Linked DNA regions of Homo sapiens. The protein of the gene in region 1 interacts with the protein of each later gene in a pairwise test. Each region holds a gene or a part of one and is shown in the gene's direction. Other genes may lie near its edges.

Region 1 (2,716 bases):
CCTTGGAATGGTACCTGGCCTTCCCTCCCACTTCTCCCCAGGACCAAGTGCACCTCAGCCCCTATGCTTTCCTGTCAAAGCACTTACTGTGTTGTTAAAACAGATGCATGCAGTTTTACCTCATTCCCGAAGTACTCAGCACATCTAAGATGTGCCTATTCCCCTGTCTAAGGAAATATGCTGATTATCATTCTTTCAGCACTCATTCTTTATAGCAATTAGTCAGGGAATACTATTAACCATTTCTGAGAAATTGTGACCCTCAAAAGAATTTAATTTATAGACAGTACAGGAAATGTAATGAAGTAAACCAAAAATTATAGATGATTATGCAGCAAAAGATTATTGCTGAGGATGGTTTTTACTGTTAGCCTTTGATATACTTTGTTACCACCTTCTTTTAGAAATTAATCAATGGGGATTGACAGATAAAAAAAGAATTATAAAACAAGATCATACTATATATACCTGCAAAAATTTAAGCAATCCACTAATTGTTAGACATTTAATTTATTCCAACTCTTTGCAGGACAGTGAAAATGAATTAGGGGGTAAAAAGTTACAAACACAACAAAATGCTTAAGAGACATAAAAGGTTATCAGACTGGGTCATGACACACTAAAATGTCCAGAGTGTGAAAAATCAAAAAGGAGCTTTTCGTTTTCTACCAAGTAGTAATGTGGAACAGTTTGCTTTGGGCCAGATCCCTTATGAGTGTTTTGGTATTGTTGGGACTTGGTAGTGTGGGTAGAAGCTCTAAAGGTAGAGTTTCATCAAAGAGTATACCTGAGTTTTAAATATGGAGGACAGCTGATGCAGTAGCTTTGTGCCCAGTGATGGAAAGAGTTGAGAGGGACAGGCCACCTTACTACAGAGGAAGCACAGCCTCCTGGCAGAGCATGCAGCCTGGTGCTAGGCTACCTGGGTTCAAATCCCAGCTCTGCCCCATGCCCTTAAAGCAAGTTACTTCTCTATCACTCAGTCTCCCCATCTATTAATATAAGATGGAGATTAATGATGATAATAGTGCCCAGTCACAGGATTGTTATGGGAATTACATGAATTTAATATATGAAAAGCACTTAAAACACAACTTGGAGTGTTCTAAGTGTTAGCTATTGTGCTTTTTCCCCCTTCTCAGCTTGAGTTAGATATAGCAGGATATTCAGCTTCCTTAATGATCAAAGATTTTCTTTATAATTGACACATAAAAATTATATATATTTAAGGTATACATTGTGATGATCTAATATACACTGTAAAATGATTACCACAATCAAGCTAATTAATACATGTCACCCAGTTACCTTTTTTTGTGTGTGGTGAGAACACTTAAAATCTTCTTAGCAAATTTCAAATATGCTATACAGTATTATTAACTGTAGTCACCATGCGGTATATTAGATCCTTAGAATCTGTAAATTATAATAACATAAGTTATTTATCTTATAACTGAAAATATCTACCATTTTTTTTCTTTGAGACAGGGTCTCGCCCTGTCACCCAGGCTGGAGTCTGCAGTGGCGTGATCATGGCTCACTCCCATCTCTACCTCCCAGGCTCAAGCAATCCTCCCACCCCAGCCTCCTGAGTAGCTGAGACTATAGGCGCACACCACCATGCCTGGCTAGGTTTTGTAGTTTTTGTAGAGACGGGTTTTTGCCACGTTGCCCAGGCTAGTCTCAAACTCCTGGGCTCAGGCGATCCACCTACCTTGGCCTCCCAAAGTGTTGGGATCATAGGTGTGAGCCACTGTGCCTGGCCAAAATGTGTACCTTTTGACCAAGATCTCCCCATTTCCTCCATCTTCTGGCTCCTGGCAACCATCATTCTACTCTGCTTTTGAGTATGACTTTTTAGATTCCACAGAAGTGAAATCACATAGTACTTGTTTTTCTGTATCTTGCTTATATCACTTAGCATTAACGTCCATTCATTATCCATGTTTTCACAAATGCCAGGAGTTCCATTGTTTTATGGCTGAAAAATATTCCATTGTGGAATAATATTCCATATATATATATACACACACAGACACACACACACATTTTCTTTATCCATTCATTCACTAATGGACACTTAGGTTGTTTCCATATCTTGGCTATTATGAATAATGCTAAAATGAACATGGGAGTGTAGGTATCACTTCAAGGTACTGATTTCACTTCCTTTAGATTTATACCCTTAAGTGGAATTGCTGGATCAGATGGTAATTCTATTTTTAATTTTTTGAGGAATTTCCGTATTTTCCATAATGTCTGTACTGGTTCACATTCTCAATTTAAATAATAGGGCAGAGAAAGAATATATTATAGAAGTGATTTTTTTTTCAAAGGGGAAAGAGGGACCAGGGACTAGAGAATTTCAGTCCCACTGTAGTAGTACTTCCAGAAATGTCCATATGAAGGATATTTTGTTTTGTTTAGAGAATATCTAACTGTAAAATATAAACATCATTTAGCAAATCTCGCATTTTTTTTACATCTAGGTTTTTCTAAAAAAATGACAGCCTTTTTCTTCCTACCACCATCTTTGAAATATTGCTTATTATATAGTCTTACTACTTTGTCACTCTTTATTATAAGCTGGGCATTCTGTCATTTCTCAAAGCAATTTTTAGGACATAATACCTCATTCTTTATAGTCTGTACTCTTCCTCTCTCCCACTATTTTATATTTTATATATATGTATATATATAAATTTTCTTATTGATA
Region 2 (3,826 bases), on another chromosome or scaffold:
GAGTTGGACAGAAGGATTTTCACGATGATGAGGAAGAAGGGTATTCATAGAAGAAGACACACGCACAGTCCCAGGGCTGGAAACATGCCTAATGTGTGTGTTAGCTTGAGAGCCTGGGGTTGTAGAGCAGAACTGTTGGCTGCCTTGCCAGGGAAAGGCCCTGCTTTCTCCCTCAGACACCTGCACTGCACCAGGAACTACATCCACCTGAACCTGTTTGCATCCTTCATCCTGCGAGCATTGTCCGTCTTCATCAAGGACGCAGCCCTGAAGTGGATGTATAGCACAGCCGCCCAGCAGCACCAGTGGGATGGGCTCCTCTCCTACCAGGTGTGTGGTGCATCCAGGACCGCCTCAGGAGGGATGGGCGGTTGGAGGAGGCCTGCCTCTGCCACCCTAGACAGGCCTGGGACAGGAGAAGACAAGAGCCGAACAGTCCTGGCCCTTCGGGAGCCCCCAGTCTGATGGGAGAGGCAGTTCGCCTTGGGACCCTCCAGTCTGCTGAGAGAGGCAGTCTACCTTAGGGAGCTCCCAATCTAAGGGAGGAGACACTGCCCTAGGGAATTCTCAGTCTGACACAAAAGAGTAGTCTTTGGAGACACACTTGAGTTTGAATGTCAGCTCTGTCACTTACTATCTGTACACTTTTAGGCAAGTCACTTACTTCTCTGAGGCTGAGAAATAGGTGAGAAGTCACTTACTTCTCACCTGCAGGGGGATACATTACTTTCTTCCAATCAGGATAGTGAGGATTCAATGAGCTAAAGCAGATAAAGTCCTTAGCACTAGCCCTAGCCAGAGATGTGAGCTCTCTCCTCCTGCATTAACCATGGCAGGATAGTGGCTGGAGCAGGACGGGGAGTGGTATCAAGAGAGGCAGAGGGCAGAGCTGTTGTCCCCATGACACCCTTCCTCTACCCCCAGGACTCTCTGAGCTGCCGCCTGGTGTTTCTGCTCATGCAGTACTGTGTGGCGGCCAATTACTACTGGCTCTTGGTGGAGGGCGTGTACCTGTACACACTGCTGGCCTTCTCGGTCTTATCTGAGCAATGGATCTTCAGGCTCTACGTGAGCATAGGCTGGGGTAAGAACCGCCATCACCCACCCTGGACCTGTGGCACGGGGGTGGGAGACCTTGACCCCTCTTCTAACATGGTACTTGGAACGCACTGCTGAGCAAGGGGCAAGGCCCACTGGGTAACCCTCTTCCTGGGCACAGGACCTTCTGCCCCGGTGCTGTTAAGATGCCGTAGGGGGTTATGGTCCTCCCCTCCTCTGCATAACTCTCCTCCCTTAATGGAAGCCTCCACCGCATGTGGCCAAACACCACCCTCTACCACTATCATGCACACCACTGGAGGTCATGGCACTGTTCTCTTAAGACCACATGGGGACATAAGTTCACACCCAGTCCCGGGCAGCCCGAGGGCCTGAGGGAAATGGTGAGTCCTGGGCCTCAAGGTGGGGAGGGGATCAAGAGGGTAGGGGGCTGGCTGGGGGGAGCCTGCTGGTGCTCTGTCACATGACGATGAAGAGGAGGGCTCAGAGGAGAGCCAAGTACAGTGGGGCAGGGGGGCCAGAGGCCAGCCAAGGAAAGGGTGGACGGCGGATGTGCCTGGAGCCCAGCTGGAAATGTTCTAGCCAAAAAAGTTTGCCAAGAACCATTGTGTCTTTTTTTTTGCTGGAACATTTCTGGTTGTGCTTCTGCCTCTCACCACGTGGGATTGTAATGAGGGGCAGCATTGGGGTTGGGAAGGGGGCTGGGATCCCCTTCACCCCTGGGAAAACATGCAACAGGCCTTTCTGGAGGGACCCACGGTACCCAGAGAATAGGCCCTGCCCTCTGTCCTCCCTAATCTGCCATTGAATCCATGAGTTTTCCTGTTCCACACCATCCCCCGCCCTGCTTGCCACTCCTTCATTCACTCCTCCTTCCTTCATGCGCCCACCTCACGCTGCTCTGACCACGGCTGCCCCTGCCACGGACCTCCGGGGACTTTCCAGCTCAGTCACATCCAGACTCCTCTTCCCTGACAATGGTCCTGTCCCTGAGCCTTTGCAAGGCTGTTCTCCATGCAGGAATGTTCAGGGAGCATCCTTCCCACACCAGGGTGTCCGCTGCCTCTTCAGGAAGCTGCCTCAGGCCACCAGTCCTCGTGGTTCTGTGCTCTCTGCCCTCTCAAGCTCTCCATCCCCTGTCCTTGCACTTCATTTATTTTTACTGGTGTTCCTCAGCCATTTTTCTCTATACAGCTCCCCCCACCCCCCAGGAGAAGAGTAGCCTGAGAGATTTTAATGTGACCAGTGTCTTGAGGACACCAAGGCCCAGAGCTGGCAGGGCCTTACAGGCAGAGCAGGCCCTGGAACCCAGGCCTCCTGACTCCCAGGCTCTGGGCCTGCGGCCATCATGCCCTGTTCTCTTGCCTGGGCTGCATCCCTTCAGTCCCCTGCAGCACCCCTGAGCAGGCTCAGGCCTCTGCACAGGTGGGCAGGTAGGCCTGGCTCCTGCTCACAGATCCCTGCTCCTCACCTGCCTCCTCCACTCCCAGAACCCAGTCCCTTCCTTGGCCTTTTCTCCCCGAGGCTTCTTCCTCCTGCTAGAGCAGGAGGAGGGAGGCCATCGAGGGCAGCTCAGGGAAGGCTGTCTTCAGGGTGGGGGACGGTGTCTGTCCATTCTAGGAAATAGCATCAGCGCTGTTAGTGCCTGTCACCATGGCGACCCGAGGGCAGGAACAATCAAGGGACGTGTGTGATGTGTGCAGAGGAGCGGGGGTGGCTGGAGTTTGGTGGGGACACACTGCCCTAGAGGTCTCTGAGTGGGAGATGGGGGAGGGAGTGCCAAGTCCTTTTCCTACCACCTCACACCCTAGCTCAGGGCTCGGGGTCTGTGGGAGCACAAGGGCAAGACCCGGAGGACACCCTGCTCTAATCAGAACACCTTTTTCTTGAGGATTGGGGTGGGGGAGACGGAGAGAGATTCACAGGTTGCTAGGAGCTCAGACGTGATGCCAGGAGGCCTTGCCCAAGCTGGGATACTTGGGAAACAACTTTCAGCTTCATGTGCAAGTGGAAGAATTAAAATTAGGACTCTGACACAGTTGGAGAGGTCCCCCAAAGGGCATGGCAGCTTCTGCTGCAGTCCCCAGGCAGTTGGGGGCCTGTAGAAACCCACATGGAGGCTGTGCAAGAGGGAGGCAAATGATGGTTGAGGGAATCATTACTTCCTGGAGCCAGTTGTGTGTGTCTTAATTTGAGCTTTTTTCTCCAACCTGTCTTGCTCGTTTTCTAAATGGGAGAAAGATGAAGCCAGCAGGGAGTGCGTAATGTTTGCATGCAGCAGGGCTTTCGTGACTGTGTTTTTTGAAAAGGCCTTGTTAAGGAAATGCTGACGATGAGTGAAACTTGCCAGGTCTGGCTGATAACATGGGTGAGTGCCCTGATCCTGGAAGGAGGTCTCAGAGAGAAGGGACAGCAGGGGGCGAGGGATACCCAGAAGGAAGCTTCTGCATGTGTACGTGGTTCAGGAAATCGGCATGCTCTTGCCCAGACAATGTTCCTTCCCTTATTGGTGTGTTGACTCACCCATCATTCGTTCCATTCTCACTGGGCATCTTCTATGTGGCAGGGCCTGTACCATGTGCTGGGGCCTTTGGAGACCATCCCATTCCTTGTCCAGTCTCATAAAGGCCTGTTACTAAAGCACCGTAGATGCTGAGAGGTCCGATTTGTGTAGAAATCAATGGGCCAGGAGAGAGAGAGCTGATGAAGAATGCTGGTCCGCTGGGGGCTCCTTTGCCTCCTCCATCTCTCCCTGCATCATCAGGCA

The links.
Region 2: the proteins of DHRS7 (region 1) and GLP1R interact in a protein complementation assay, tested with the Homo sapiens proteins (one large-scale study listed by BioGRID).

What each region holds. Positions count from the first base shown.
Region 1 is NC_000014.9:60,146,000-60,148,715, reverse strand, and holds part of DHRS7 (dehydrogenase/reductase SDR family member 7 isoform 1 precursor), read left to right. Parts: intron 1-494; exon of another isoform or gene 495-2,716. UniProt on the Homo sapiens protein: NADPH-dependent oxidoreductase which catalyzes the reduction of a variety of compounds bearing carbonyl groups including steroids, retinoids and xenobiotics.
Region 2 is NC_000006.12:39,072,686-39,076,511, forward strand, and holds part of GLP1R (glucagon-like peptide 1 receptor precursor), read left to right. Parts: intron 1-176; coding exon 177-330; intron 331-924; coding exon 925-1,084; intron 1,085-1,628; exon of another isoform or gene 1,629-1,696; intron 1,697-3,826.